2 linked regions of the Homo sapiens genome follow. The protein of the gene in region 1 interacts with the protein of each later gene in a pairwise test. Each region holds a gene or a part of one and is shown in the gene's direction. Other genes may lie near its edges. The genes, in order: TSPAN15 and GYPC.

Evidence for each region.
Region 2: the proteins of TSPAN15 (region 1) and GYPC interact in binary tests that used the Homo sapiens proteins (3 or more experiments, as listed by UniProt).

The regions. Positions count from the first base shown.
Region 1 is NC_000010.11:69,496,074-69,504,157, forward strand, and holds part of TSPAN15 (tetraspanin-15), read left to right. Parts: intron 1-2,135; coding exon of another isoform or gene 2,136-2,206; coding exon 2,207-2,323; intron 2,324-8,084. UniProt on the Homo sapiens protein: Part of TspanC8 subgroup, composed of 6 members that interact with the transmembrane metalloprotease ADAM10.
Region 2 is NC_000002.12:126,686,568-126,694,651, forward strand, and holds part of GYPC (glycophorin-C), read left to right. Parts: exon of another isoform or gene 1-78; intron 79-3,687; coding exon 3,688-3,744; intron 3,745-7,296; coding exon 7,297-7,380; intron 7,381-8,084. UniProt on the Homo sapiens protein: This protein is a minor sialoglycoprotein in human erythrocyte membranes. The blood group Gerbich antigens and receptors for Plasmodium falciparum merozoites are most likely located within the extracellular domain.

The DNA.
Region 1 (8,084 bases):
AGGGGAGTAACCTACCCCAGTCCAAAGCCCCCTCTGCCAAGTCTCTTCAGTGACAACTCACTCCTTGTCAAGTTAAAGACATCCCTGATTGGGAGAAAGTTCTTCACTAATTTCAGTTTCCCCCAAATATGGGACAGTGAACCAGACGCCTCTCTTACTTTCATGACACTTCCTTGAATGTGATGATGATCCTATTCCTTTTGGGACACCATCTCTCCCCTCTAGGTCCACCCAAATCTGTTGGTGCAATAATAATAATAATAATAATAATAATAATAATAATAATAATAATAATAATGGCAGTGGTAGGGCCAGCTGCTGTCCTGGGTGGCTTTTGTACATCAACTTCACTTGGTCCTGAGCCTCAGCTTCCTCACCTACATAAGGGGAATAATGACAGGAGCTCTTGGGGCGTCGTCATGAGGATTACCTTGACTTAATTCAGGAGACGTGCTTAGAACAGTGCCAAGCACAGGGTGAGACCACAGTGCCAGCTGTGGGGATCATTGGTATGTTCTCCTGGGTGAGGACAAGTAGAGTGAGGGCTGCAGGCCCACTCAGCCGGGACAGCACTTCCTGGGACATAATCTTGGGGGCCTCAGCTGGCCTGGATCCTTGTGCCAGCTCTCAGTGGGGACTAGCCTCTCCCCACATGCAGGGCCACTTGCTGTGGCCGCTCCCTTGGCCCAGACTTTCTCTTCAGTCACAACAGGTGCAGCCTCTGGAAGGTCTTTTTCTGCCAGGGATGTGCCTGCCAGCTTGGGCTGGGAGAGCTGACTTCTGCTCCGGGTGGAGTGAGATGTTTTTATTGGAACCAGCCTTTAGCTGGCTTGGGGATTTCATTTCTCCTGGCATAGAGGTAGGAGGTGATTAATGCTGAATGGGCACTTGCTTGGTGCCAGGTCCAGTGCTGAGTGCTTCATGCATGGCACTCTATGTAATCACAGCTCAGCTGTGCAGAGCTGCCATCCTTATTCTTGCTTTACAGACAACCATCTGAGGCTCAGAGAGGCTGACCAACTTGCCTGAGGTTGCACAGCAGGGAGTGGTGGTCTGAGGATTTGACCTTGGGTCTGTTCCATTGCAAGACAAATGCCCTTTGAACTACATTGCAGAAAGACAGTTCTAGGTCCCAAAACCTGGTGGCTTAAGGGGCACTGTGGGGACTCTGAAAGGTGTCTGGCTACCAGGACGTGTACTGCAGCCCTGGTTGAGCCCTCCAGTCCCAGCTCCCTGCTTCAGCTGGCTGGCAAAGCTTTGCATGGTCCAGCCTGTGCCGCCCTTTCATCCTCATGCTCTGCACTCTCTCTGTTCCAGGCTTGTTGGCCTCCGCACCTGCTGCTGAAATACAAGCTTGTTTCTGCGTGGGGCCTTTGCATGGGTCGTCTGGCTTCTTTCTGTTTCCATGTTTCAGATGAAATATCCTCTCTACAAAGAGCCCTTTCATGACCTGCCAACCTAGAGCTGCCCCTCCCCACTTTCCCCCTATTTCTCCATTTCCAGGTTGCACAGCACCTTTCCATCCAGTGCTCACTCTCTGTCTCTCCACTGGAATGTGTTCCACCTGAGCAAGGGCTGCCTTGCTTTTGCTCACCCTGTCTCTCCAGTGCCCAGGACAATGCCAGGCACATACCAGCCATCAGGAGGGTTACCAACTACTTCCTACAGGAGCAGGGAGGGGAGGCAGGGAGGGGCTCGGCTAAGGGGAGAGCTCCAGGCAGGTTGTGAGGTGTGGGTGCTCTCCTTGCTAAGGGCAGGGCCAGCTGAGCTGGACGGGGTGGCTCCTAGGGTGGGTGCGAAGGTTGGTTGAGGTGCAGGGACTTTCACAGAATCATGCTTGGTCTCTGGGACTTTAAGGGCCATCTTTTCCAGCCTAGCACCTGCATTTGGGGACACGAAGATGAAGAAAGTGGAGGCCAGTTGTCAAGGAAGGACCTTTCCTCCCAGTGCCTAGTCACTACCCTGATATCCCACCAAGAGGCAGCCCAGCCTTGGCTTCCATACCTCTCTAGTGACAGGGGGTTCACTACCCTCTAGGCAGCCATGCCACACTTTGACAGCTCTGACTTGAAAGTGTACAGCCTCTCCCTGCCCCAGGGTGACCCACATAATAAACTGCCTCCGTCTCCTGACAGGGCCCCTTCCTGTCGTCTGAGCAGGGCCTGGGCGATGACGGCAGCTCCTCTTTCCTGCTTGCTTCCCTCAGTTCAAGTGCTGTGGCGGGGAGGACTACCGAGATTGGAGCAAGAATCAGTACCACGACTGCAGTGCCCCTGGACCCCTGGCCTGTGGGGTGCCCTACACCTGCTGCATCAGGAACACGGTAGACACTGCTCCTGTGGGGACTGGGGGGCTGTCGGGGACCCCAGGTGGTATAAATGTTCTCTTTTCTCTCTTCCCAACTTGAAGATGGGTGGTGTGGGTGGATGGCAGGGAAGTAGGAGTTGGTGGCAGAGCGGAGGCTTTCCTGATTCTCAAGGGCTCCTGAAAGTGGAGCTTCTGGGGGTCGGGGGTAGGGAGACCATGTCTTTCTTAGTGGTGTTGGTTAAAATCTATTGAGCACCTACCTTGTGCAGGCCTGCTCTGGGCACTTTGGTGGTATTTACTCATTTAGTATTCACGACAACCCTGTGAGGTATGTACTGTTATTTTACCCACTTTACAGATGAGGAAATTGAGGCACTCAAAGGCTGGGTGTCTTGCCCAAGGTTGGCAGGGCTGGGATGAAGTGCAGGCAGCTGTTGCCTGAGCTACACTCTGGAGAACTGTGCAGGCCAGGTGAGGGCAGGAGGGAGAGGTGCCCAGGCCAGGGGAGCTTAGCGGGGGTAGCTGGCTCTGCAGCATTAGTGGAGGCAGGCAGGACCTGCACCTTGGGCATCTCCATTGGTCTTTGGCCTTGAGGTCCTGGTGATCATCAGCAGCAGAGTGCTTGGAAGGGGGTCTGGTGACGTAAATGCCATCCTCTTCCTCTCCCCAGCACGATCCTCTCGGGTCTGTCACCTTGGTCATTTGGGATGATGTCTTGTGTTGTCAGCGCTTAAGTGAAAGGCTTCATCAGTCCTTGTGTTTGACAAATGTGTCCAGAAACTGTTTCAGGATTGGAACGAGGTGGAGAGCTTTGCAATTACTCATGGCCCAGATAGTCATGGAAAGTTTTTCTCCTGACATTGCCACCATTCTGTGCCCACTGCTGGATTCTGTAAACTGAGCAGCTGCGGGTGGGGGCCTCGCCCATGAGTCAGAGAGCCAGTGCCAAGTGCACTAGCTCTAAAAAAGGCCGGGCCAGGAGGGAAGCTTTGTTTGGAAGTGTTAGCTGCCATTTTAGGGTAGTTCTCTGGGAAGTGGGGTGCTGAGGAGTAGCAGAGTTTCCAGAGAGGCCTGCGTGGGGTGATCCTGAACCTCATCACCCAGGGCAGCAGCATCTGAATACCTAAGCTGAGATGTGGAAGCCAAACTTGTATTCATTCATTCATTCATTCATTCAACAAATATTGGCTGAGAACCTACTCTATGCCAGACACATTTCCAGGTTCTGGGGGTGTAGCAAACAAAGTCTCTGCCCGCAAGGAGGTGACATCCTAGTGGAGAAAACTGACAAACAAAATAAGTAAAAGATAGAGGATCATAAATGCTGAGTAGAAAAAGAAAGTAGGGCATGGAGGATTGCAGTTTGGGATACTGAGAAAGGCGGGATCTGGGTGAAGCTCTGAAGAAAGTGAGGAAGGTGTCTGGGGGAGGGGCATTCCTGGCAGCAAGAACAGCTGTGCAAAGGCCCCAGGTGGGAATCACCCCAGGGCGTTTGAGAAATGCACAGAGTGGCTGGAGCAGAGGGAGCACAGCGGAGGATGGTAGGAGGTGGAGTCAGGGAGGTCATGGGTACCCCGAAGGCCACAGGCAGGACTGTGGGGCACCCTTGAGTGATGGACCATACAGGGCTGCATGGAAGAGGGGCACTCTGACTTGGTTTTACAAGAATCAGTCTGGCTGTTGTGAGGGACATGCTAGATGCAGGGATAGAGTTAGGGGCTGATATGCAGTGATCCAGGGGTCATAGGTCATCTTGTCCAGGAAGGTGCTCTTGGATCAACACCTGTGGAAGTGGGAGCCAGAAGCGGGATTGGGCAATGAAGGGAGTTGAGCAGTGATGCAGCCTCAGCTCAGTTCGGCTGGAGGCCTCAGCCACATCTATGAGGACAGCCCTTCAGAGTTGTCCCCTACTGGGGTGAGGGGGCCAGGCCTTCACACTCCCACCCACATTGACCAGGCATTGCATGAGTCCAGTGGTCCACCCAAGAAGGGACTTGCTGGCTCTGTTCAGCCAAGAACAGACTAATACAGCAAGAGGAAAGAGAGGGATTGATTGATGATAAGGAATTGGCTTGTGTAATTATGGAGGCGGGCAAGTCCCAAGATCTGCAGGGTGAGTCGGCAGGCTGGAGACCCAGGAGAGCTGAGGGTGGAGTTCCCATTCAAAGGCTGGTCAGGCTTCAAACCTAGGAAGAGCCAGCATTTCAGTTCAAGCCCGAAGGTAGCCAAGCAGGGAGAATTCTCTTATGGTCACTGAGGAGAGGGCAGTCTTTTGTTCTGTTCAGGCCTTCCCTGATCAGATGAGACCTCTCCCCCTTGGGCAGGGCCATCTGCTTTACTTAGTCTGCTGATTTAAACATTAGCCTCATGCAGAAACACCCCCACAGAGACACCCAGGATAATGTCTGGCCAAATATCTGGGTATCCCATGGCCTGGTCATGTTGACATATAAAATTAATGATCACATGAAGTAGTTATTGCAGGGGGCTGACACCTAAGGGCTCCCCACAGCATCCCTGCACCAGGGAGGGGAAGACAGATGCTTGGAGCTGGGTGGTGGTGGTGGTGGTGGAAGTGGCAAACCGTGGTGACATTCTGGCTGTATTTTGCAAGTAAGCCTACAGGATTTGCTCGCATAGCAGATGTGGGCGATGAATGAAAGAGAGAAATCAAGGAGGATACCCAGGTTTTGGTCTGAGCCACAGGAAAGACGGGGCTGCCACTGCCTGAGAGGGGAGGACTGCAAGGAGGCAGGCTGGGTGACCAGGAGCTCACCGTGGACGTGGGGGGTTTGAGAGCCTGTTCAGCATCCCATCAGGGGTGTCAAAGATGCGGTTGGATATAGGAGTCTGGAGTTCTGGGAACGACTAGGCAAGGGGTGTAAACACGGACATCATCTGCAGATAGGGTAGAATCTAAAGACAGCATCTGAATGAGAGCACTGAGGTAGGGAGGAGCCTTCCCCTGGCCGGGGTTATCTGACCCTGTGTTACACATGACCATTGAGTCTCCCTGTGCCACCACACCTGGATGATTTTCTCTAAATGTGAAACAGGGCGTTCGCTTCCTCCATAGAACTGGTTGATTTGTGTCCAGATCTATTTATTTTACACTGTACTATTCAACCTGGGATTTGAATGAGTACACGGGAAATATGTAGTGTAAAAAACTAAAATAGCATTAAAAATCAGGACTGTGGGAATTGTATTCTCAGATAGGAGGCCTAGATGATGGAGAAAAATATAAAATCCTGCTATCTAAGCCTCAGGACCTCATGGACTCACTGAAAAGGAGCTGAGCCTCGTGTCTGGTGGCTTGGAGCAGGGCTCCCCTACCTCCAGGCCATGAACCAGTACCGGTCAGTGGCTTGTTAGGAACCAGGTCGCACAACAGGAGGTGGGCAGAGGTTGAGGGAGCATTGCCACCTGAGCTACACCTCCTGTCACATCAGCAGCAGCATTAGAGTCGCATAGGAGTGTGAACCCTATTGTAAACTGTGCATGCAAGGGACCTAGGGTGCATGCTCCTTATGAGAATCAAACTAATGCCTGATGATCTGAGGTGGAATGGTTTCATCCCGACACCATCACCCCCCACCCCCCCGCACCCCATCCTGTGGAAAAATTATTTTCCTTGAAACCAGTCTCTGGTGCCAGAAAGGTTGGAGACCACTGGCTTAGAGTTTCCTGGCAACCAAAAGGAAAAGGGAGACATGGTCTGTTACATTGTTACTGTTCAGCAGAACATACCAGCAGAACATACCAGTTCTTCAGGGAAAGTAACCTTTTCCCTAACACTCAGCTTTAAAAGAAATGTCTTATATGAGCTTCCAATAGAGGATTTGAGCCATAGAAGTTCACATAGGGCTGTAAAATCTGGTTATACCAGGATATATCCCTCGGAGATGTTGGTGCAGAGGGCAGCGTGCTTCTACATTAAATGGCTCCAGACTGCTGTGCCTGCTGAGCTCTTGGGACCAATTTTCACGTACCTCCCCTCCCTTGTTGTTGGCTACCCCTTGGGGGCCTGTCGCGAAGGCCCCTCTCCCTGTCCCCATTAGCTGCTCAGTCTTTTCAGGGTGAGAGGATGCACACACAAACATTGCTGTGATCTTCTGGCTGCCCAGGAGTCCCCCTTCTGACTTCCTGTCCTGTGGCCCCGTGCAGGATGGAAGAGGCTACTGGACCCTGGTCTTGGGGCCTGTGAACTTCAGCAGAGCCTCTTGCAGAATATCGATTCTATGGTCAGGCAGGTAAACCCAGGCAGGCTTTACTTTTGGAAAGACTATGGATGCATCGTATCCCCTCACCCCTTGGTGAGGGGCTCTCCTGGCAGGGTGAGGTGAGTCCCCCCTGGGCCTGGAGAAGGGTTCTGGGCTCTGATGCCAGAGAGGCCTCTGCCAGTTGCCTGTGTGCTAAGAGACTCATCCCCCGAGGTCACCAGAGCTGGCCCAGTGAAGTCACTCTTGTCACCTCCCTACGTACCATGCAGCTTACCTATTTGTTATGTTCATTATCTCCCTTTCTACAGTGTAAGTTCCATGAAGGCAGGGACTTTGTCTTGTTGTTCTGTATTTCAAGTGACTAGAACTGGGATTGACATGCAATAGGTGCTCAGTTAATATTTGTTCAATGAACAAATGAATGAACCAATGAGATGGAAAGCACTCACTCCCATCATGTGCCCGTGCACCTGCTCTCCAGGCCTGACCCTCTCCATAGGGGTTGTGTTTATGGCCTGGAAGGGCCAAAAACACTGGCTGACTAATGCCCAGTGGGCACTGGGCATGGCTGGGACTGAGGCTACCTGGAGAACCAGCTAAACCGAGGGAGGTCGTCTTGCCTGCACATCAAGCCCTGACATTTAGAATGACCTAGATGACATCTGAGGCCCAACCCTCTCTCGGAAGGAGAGAAGACACCCTCCCTTTCCTTTGCAGGGGCTGGAATTGTGAACAAATCACGCCAGCCAGCATTCTTGTGCTCCTCCATGTGCCCAGCCCCGTGATAAGCACTTTATATGTGTATCTCACTTTATGTCCAAAACAGCCCTAGGAGGTGGGTTCTGTGATCATCACAACCTATTCATTCATTCATTTTCTCAGTTAACAAATATGTATTGAGTACCTCTGCGTGCCAGTTCCTTAGCAGCCCACCTAAGGTTGGGCTCTGCTCCTAAGTGGCAGAGCAAGATCTGGACCCAGGAAATGTGACACCAGAGGGCACGCTGGGGGCTCTGCTGTTGCCCTCCTGAGTCATCACTGGCGCCTGCAGCACTCACGGCAGCGTTCACTTACATGTAGAGCAGCGGGGCTGGGGGGGACGGTCATGGGCTGGACCAGGAAGTCTCACTCTCTTCCCTGGTGGTTGGAGAAGGAGACCCTGCGGGGCACAGGTGGTGATGGGAAGTGCCCGCGGCAGCCTGTGAGTTAGGGCCTGCCTGGGGAGGGGTTTGATGAGGTCTAGGGCGTGACCACAGGTTTCCCTATGCCTAAATTAATCAGTAGTCGGGAGTTCTGGAGAGCACCTCTCTTCCCAAGAAGGAAGTTTTGGCAGCACTCTCCGCTGGTGGAGCAGTGGTCTATGGAACGGAAGCATGGCCAGGGGCCCTGCCCTGGACCTCAGGTAAACCACAGCTGACCCTGTGCCAGCTGTAGTCTGAAGTTTTCCTCCCCAAGAGCCAGCGGCGCAGGAACAGCCCCACCCCGACCTCTGAGACGGTGTGAGCAAAGCGGTGCTCTGGGGCGGTCATAGCCCGGGAGCGTGGGCAGCACACC
Region 2 (8,084 bases), on another chromosome or scaffold:
CAGTGCCAGGCACCCAGTCTAATGCTGAGTATAGAGTTGTGAGCAAGACAAGCCTGAACGTGTGGAGCTTCCTGTCTGGTAGGGTGTTGCAGGGGGCCGGGGGGACCTTGCAACCTGGAGGAGGGCTGGGAAGAAAAAAAGTAGGATGCTTGGGTCTTTCCAAAAAATAGGTCCTCTCATGTCTGTCCAATCGTTGTGCTGGGTAATTGTCTATTTCTGATACCAGACCCAAGCTTGGCCGTAATCAACACCTTATTCTGCCATGAACCCACCCCCAAGGCTGCCCGCAGATCACCCCCATCCTAGTTGCTGAGCTCAGCATGATCCTAATCTCAACCTCAGAAGTATCCCTCAGCTCCAGCAAGGGGCAGGCTTTCATTCCAGGCCCCTTAAGCTGGATGCAGACCAACCACCTACTTTCTGGGCTGGATCTGAGCTCACTCAGCCAGTCTTCTCCAAAGACCTGATATCACTGCTGCTAGCTGAATGGGTACAGTGTAAGGGAGTGCGCCAAGGGGGGCTCTCACCCCTCCATCTCCAGAGGCTTCCGGAGCCTTGGAGCCGTGGATGGCAAGCAGACACTGGGGAGAAAGCTGAGAAGTGGGGAGAGCTGCCTTAGATGCTGAGCTCTCTGCCTGGAATGCTTATAGGCTTTGTGCAGCAAACTCCTATTTGCCCTTAAAGGACTAATCCTGATGTCACCGCTTCTGGAAGCCCTCTTTACACCAGCACTTCCCAGCCTACAGCATGAATCAGAATCTACTATAGTAATTACTGGGTCCCAGTCCTAGTGTTTTTCTTCAGTAGGTCTGGGCTGGGGCCTGAGAATTTCTATTTCTAACAGGCTCCCAGAGGATGCTGTGTATCCAGAGACTATGCTTTGAGAATTGCTGTCTCACAGCATCCACACCTTCCCAGACAGCCTTGAGCTTCCTCTCTATGCTGATTCTGATCTATCAATATAGGGCAGCTCTGGTTGGGCTGAAATGTCACTCCCCTGGAGTCTGTCACATTGTGAAACATGTGTAAATTCAGCTCCACACACTTGGTGGGGTGGGGGGCATGGAGAGAGTAGTTCCAGCTGAGGGAACTTTCCTGCCCACCACGCTCCTCAGAGGGCATGAGCTTGGAGGGAGCCCACATTGGGAGGCCCAGCTGGCAATCCCAATGGTCTCCCAATGAGGCCCCGAAGCTCTCAGGTCCTACCTCCCCTCCCAGCCTGGCTGCCCTGCTGGAAGTGTGTGTAGTCTCCCAGTATACAGATTTGAGTACAAGGTCCCTAACCAGAAGCCAAGAAATGCACCCCAAGTTGTTCAAGCCAAATATCTCACCTGGAAACCAGCTTACCAAGGCTCTACACTTTGCAGTGCCCTGTAAGGCTAAACACACTGACTCAAGGCTGCCAGGGCTTCAAATGATTGACTTCTGACTCTCAAGGTACAAGCCGGGGAAAATAACACTTTTCTGGGACGCAGCTGCCAAATCTGGAAAATGGGGCTAATAATAACTCCTATCGAATGGAAATGTTGCAAGGTCTGAGTTAAAATACATTAAATGTTGAGAGCAGCACCTGGCATTTAGTATGAAATTATTAACTGTTTTAAAGGAAGGGAAAATAACAGTCCCTTCTAACCCTGATTGTGTTGGACAAACTGTCATAAGAAATGCTGGTCTTTACCTGGAAAATTTCTAAGGGCAGTTCTGGGTATTTGAGCTTCTATAACCATCCATGCCTACTTAAGCAAGATGTTATTCTTTCTTTCCGAACTTTGAGGTGCATAGTGGTTAGAAAAGTCTAGAACTCCACCACTAAATCCATTCATTTATACATGCATGCATTTACTCATGCATTCAGTGAATATTTATTGAGTACCTACTATGAGCTAGATACTAAATTGGAGGCTGCACTTGTTCACTGTAATAAAGTCTAGCACCCACTTGAACTTGCTATGGCTCCTGCTTCAGGTCTTGCTACTGAGAAGCACTGTGAATGCTGGATCCTCTACCCTGCCTGGTTCCTGGTTCCCAAGGTGCTGACTCCAGACCCAGAGTTCACTGGGTCTCTTGGCGGCCTCAGTGCCTTGTATTATCTTCTTCCCCACCTCCAAGCTCCTTGGTGGCCCCAGACACCACTAGCTTGGCCCACCTGCTTCCTGCTGTGGACCCCTAGCTGGGAGTCTGTTTTCCCCTCACCCACTATGACTCCTGACTCCAGCAGGCAGTTACTTATAAGAAAGAGGCATCTGGCAGCTGCACTGGGGAGAATGACCTCATAGCACTATAATTAAAGTGATCATCTGAGTGGAAATGACTATTATGAAGCATCCTTCTCTGTTTTATTATGTAGAGCCATTGTAATGGGAATACGGGATTTCCTATGTTAATGCTGATATTTCTGTGATCCAATAAATCCTTCTTCACAATCATCTCCCAGAGGAAAGAAGGCATTCTGTGCAGCAGCTCTAGGAAACATCAGGTCCCCAATGTCCTAGACATCCTACCCTCTTTGGCCAGGCCATTAAGCTGTGAAAAAACACACTCAGTAACTTGGATAATGTCATAGAGTGGTCCTTCCCACAGCAGAGTCAATGTAAAGACCTATGGGAGGGCTTCAGGAATGACTCCTCAGACAGGAGCCCTGGGAAGGGCTTCTCCAAGAGAGAAAGTGCACTCCAGAGGCAAGAGCACTGGCCAAGTCCTGACCTGATACCGGATGAGCTGTGTGATCATGGGCACATCACGTCTCTGAGCCTTGGTGTTCTTCCTGTGAGATGGGCCAATAACACCAGGCACCTCATAGGATGGATGTGAAGACTGCATGATAGAGTAGATAGAAGGCAGTTAAAGCAACACCTGGTGCTATGGTTTGGATGTGGTTTGACCCTGCAAAAGCTCATGTTGAAATTTGGTTCCCAAGGTGGCAGTGATGGGAGGTGGGACCTAGTGGGGGATAGTTGAGTCACAGGGGCAGATCCCTCATGCATACATTAATACCCCCTTGAGGGAGGGAGGGAGTTCTAGCTGTCGTGAGACTGGATTAGTCACTGGAGAGCAGGTTGTTATAAAAGCAAATTCAGCTTTCTAAACTCTCTTGCTTTCTATATCACCTTGTGGTCTCTTTGCGAATGTCAGATCCCCTTCTGCTTTTTGCCATGAGTGGGAGCAGTATGAGGCCCTCACCAGATGCAGCTGCCCAATTTGGACTTCCCAGCCACTAGAACTGTGAGCCAAACAAACCTCTCTTCTTTACAAATTACCCAAGTATTCAGCTATAGCAACTCAAATTGGACTGAGACACCTGGTGTGAGCATCAGACACTCCACAAACATTCTTTCTTAAACACAACAAGAGTCCCTGCCTTCATACACAGCACAGATATCTGTTGAGCATCTACCACATGCAGGCACCACTCTCAGTGGAGGCATACTGCAGAGAACTTAAATGGGCCTGGAGTGACCTGGTGGTTCAGGTTCAAACAGTTCCATCCCAGTCAGTGACCAAGCAGAACCTGGTTCCTGGTCTGTGCACCCCTGCTAGGAGTCGGTGGGTGCACCACACTGTCTCTGTCCACTTGAACCCATTCTCAGAGCTGCTCACACCTGAGCAAAGGATGCAGCTTGGGCCAAGGTGCTGCTAGGCATGGAGAGTCTTCCTCTCTGACCTCAGATTCTTGTCCTCTGTTCACAGAGCCTGATCCGGGGATGGCCTCTGCCTCCACCACAATGCATACTACCACCATTGCAGGTGAGTTCTCATCACAGAGCCTCACCATAATGGAAACTGCCGTGACTTCAGATGAGCTCTCATCACAGAGCCCTTTAAGCAGCCAGGGTTGGGGGACTTGGTGAAAACATCCAGGGGAGAACTGACCTAAGGACTTGGACAGGGGTGGCTGTGGCCATTTTTTCTCTCCCTCAGAGGTGGTTTTGAATGTGGAATGGAGGAGTCTACCCCTGGGTAAATAAATATACATAGGTATGTCATATGTATCTGTATTTATATTTATTGGCCTTTCTCAGGGCTGTTGACTCACAGGAACTCAGGAGCTGGAGAGGCAGCAGTTTTGGTGAGGGAGGTTGAGGGTGGAGGTGAGATGAGGGTAGACTGACCAGGCTACTTAGACTTCTCCACCGTCTCCCTCATCCCACATTATTTTCTTCCCTGGGTCCATGACCCCCAACCCTCCATCCTCAAGGAAACTTGAGCCTGCCTTTGCCTTGCTTTGAACCCTGAGCAACGGGCTCCCCATGGGTCATGGCTGTGACTGCAAACTGTGTTTGAAGAACAACCAAGTTTGGGAGGTGCTGTGTGCTCTGCGACCTTCTTTGAGATCCACACTTCTCAGCAGCTTATTAATAACTCAGGAAACATCTACAATTTGAAAAGAAAGAAAAAGCAGCAGAAGCAAGCAATCAAAGACACCTGTTGGACTCTGTGTAACCTGGCATTCTCCAACTCATTGCACCACTGAGCTTTTATTCTTCCTAGGTGATATTATTAACATTATGCAGATACAAGTGTTCCCCTGAAGGCAGTAGGAAGTTTAGGAAATTGTTCTATAAAGGTGGGACTTGGGAGCAGTTTCAGACTTTCCATATTCTTCAGCAGTCCCTCCCCAAGGCCTCCAAATAAACCTGCATTCTAAGAAAAGACAGAGGCTTGCTCTGCAGCTTCAAAGTAAATGCCCAAACTCAAAACACCCCCACCCCATGAGACTGCTGCCCCCTCACTCTCAAGGTCCTGAGTGATCTGACCCCTCCTGAGCAGCCTTACACTGTACTTCCCCACCCCTCTGGAGTCCCAGCAGAAGTGAGGGGTGACTGCCCCTCGCACAGCCAACACCTTGGCATTCTCTGCGTTACCCTCTCCCACTTCAGTCCTTTGTGTGGCCAAGTCCTGCTCCTCCTGCAGACTCACCCCAGTCCTCAATCGCCAGGAGGGAATGGGAGCAGGGTAGGCTGAGGAGCAGTCATCGGGCCATTGAAAAACACAAACCACACAACCTGCCCCAAGCACAGTTAATAGCCTCATTTTTCCCCCTGTATAGTGTACATACAGCAACCAGCTCTGCCCTGTTTTCTGGGACTTCCCTGGTTTTAGAATGAATAATCTCCAAGCAGTGTTCTTGCAACTGTTGCAAGGACCATGTTAAATTGCTTTAAATGTTGAGACCTGCACCTGGCACCTAGTAAGCGATTGTTAGTTGTTTTAAAGGAAGAGGAAATAACAGTCTCTTCTAACGCTGATTGTGTTGGACAAACTGTCCTAATAAATGCTGTCTTCACCTGGAAAATTTCTGAGGGCAGTTCTGGGTATTTGAGCTTCTATAACCATCCATGCCTACTTAAGCAAGGTGTTATTCTTTCTTTCTGAACTTTGAGGTGCTTGTTGATTGGAAAAGTCTAGAACCCCACCACTAAATCCATTCATTTATATATGCATGCATTTACTCATGCATTCAGTGAATATTTATTGAGTACCTACTATGTGCTAGATACTAAACTGGAGGCTGCACTTGTTCACTCTATATAATAAAGTCTAGCACCCACTTGAACTTGCTACGGCCCTTGCTTCAGGTCTTGCTACTGAGAAACACCGTGAATGCTGGATCCTATACCCTGCCTGGTTCCTGGCTCCCGAGACCCAGATCCTGAGCCAGTGTTCACTGGGTCCCTGGGCTGCCTCAGTGCCTTGTATTATCTTCTTCCCCACCTCCAAGCTCCTTGGTGGCCCCAGACACCCCTAGCTTGGCCCATCTGTGTCCTGCTGTGGACCCCTAGCTGGGAGTCTGTTTTCCCCTCACCCATTATGACTCCTGACTCCAGCAGGCAGTTACTTATAAGAAAGAGGCATCTGGCAGCTGCACTGGGGAGAATGACCTCATAGCACTATAATTAAAGTGATTATCTGAGTGGAAATGACTATTATGAAGCATCCTTCTCTGTTTTATTATGTAGAGCCATTGTAATGGGAACGTGGGATTTCCTATGTTAACACTGATATTTCTGTGATCCAATAAATCCTTCTTCACAATCATCTCCCAGAGGAGAGAAGGCATTCTGTGCAGCAGCTCTAGGAAACATCCCGGTCCCCAATGTCCTAGACATCCTACCCTCTTTGGCCAGGTCATTAAGCTGTGAAAAAACACACTCAGTAACTTGGATAGTGTCATAGAGTGGTCCTTCCCACAGCAGAGTCAATGTAAAGACCTATGGGAGGGCTTCAGGAATGACTCCTCAGACAGGAGCCCTGGGAAGGGCTTCTCCAAGAGAGAAAGTGCACTCCAGAGGCAAGAGCACTGGCCAAGTCCTGACCTGATATCGGATGAGCTGTGTGATCAAGGGCACATCACGTCTCTGAACCTTGGTGTTCTTCCTGTGAGATGGGCCATTAACACCAGGCACCTCATAGGATGGATGTGAAGACTGCATGATAGAGTAGATAGAAGGCAGTTAAAGCAACACCTGGTGCTATGGTTTGGATGTGGTTTGACCCTGCAAAAGCTCATGTTGAAATCTGATTCCCAAGGTGGCAGTGATGGGAGGTGGGACCTAGTGGGAGATATTTGAGTCACAGGGGCAGATCCCTCATGCATACATTAATACCCCCTTGAGGGAGGGAGGGAGTTCTAGCTGTCGTGAGACTGGATTAGTCACTGGAGAGCAGGTTGTTATAAAAGCAAATTCAGCTTTCTAAACTCTCTTGCTTTCTATATCACCTTGTGGTCTCTTTGCGAATGTCAGATCCCCTTCTGCTTTTTGCCATGAGTGGGAGTAGTATGAGGCCCTCACCAGATGCAGCTGCCCAATTTGGACTTCCCAGCCACTAGAACTGTGAGCCAAATAAACCTCTCTTCTTTATAAATTACCCAAGTATTCAGCTATAGCAACACAAAATGGACTGAGACACCTGGTGTGAGCATCAGACACTCCACAAACATTCTTTCTTAAACACAACAAGAGTCCCTGCCTTCATACACAGCACAGATATCTGTTGAGCATCTACCACGTGCAGCACCACTCTCAGTGCAGGCATTAGGCAGATAACTCAAATGGGCCTGGAGTGACCTGGTGGTTCAGGTTCAAACAGTTCCATCCCAGTCAGTGACCAAGCAGAACCTGGTTCCTGGTCTGTGCATCCCTGCTAGGAGCAGTGGGTGCGCCGCACTGCTCCTTTCCACTTGGACCCATTCTCAGAGCTGCTCACACCTGAGCAAAGGATGCAGCTTGGGCCAAGGTGCTGCTAGGCATGGAGAATCTTCCTCTCTGACCTCAGATTCTTGTCCTCTGTTCACAGAGCCTGATCCAGGGATGTCTGGATGGCCGGATGGCAGAATGGAGACCTCCACCCCCACCATAATGGACATTGTCGTCATTGCAGGTGAGCTCTCATCACAGAGCCCTTCAAGCAGCCAGGGTGGGGGGCCTTGGTGAAAACATCCAGGGGAGAACTGACCTAAGGACTTGGGCAGTGGTGGCTGTGGCCATTTTTTCTCTCCCTCAGAGGTGGTTTTGAATGTGGAATGGAGGAGTCTAGCCCTGGGTAAATATATATATACATGCATACATCGTACGTATCTATGTATGTATTTATTGGCCTTTCTCAGGGCTTTTGACTCACAGGAACTCAGGAGCTGGAGAGGCAGCAGTTTTGGTGAAGGAGGTTGAGGGTGGAGGTGAGATGAGGGTAGACTGACCAGGCTACTTAGACTTCTCCACCATCTCCCTCATCCCACATTATTTTCTGCCCTGGGTCCATGACCCTCAACCCTCCATCCTCAAGGAAACTTGATCCTGCCTTTGCCTTGCTTTGAACCCTGGGCAAGGGGCTCCCCATGGGTCATGGCTGTGACTGCAAACTGTGTTTGAAGAACAACCAAGTTTGGGAGGTGCTGTGTGCTCTGCGACCTTCTTTGAGATCCACACTTCTCAGCAGCTTATTAATAACTCAGGAAACATCTACAATTTGAAAAGAAAGAAAAAGCAGCAGAAGCAAGCAATCAAAGACACCTGTTGGACTCTGTGTAACCTGGCATTCTCCAACTCATTGCACCACTGAGCTTTTATTCTTCCTAGATGATATTA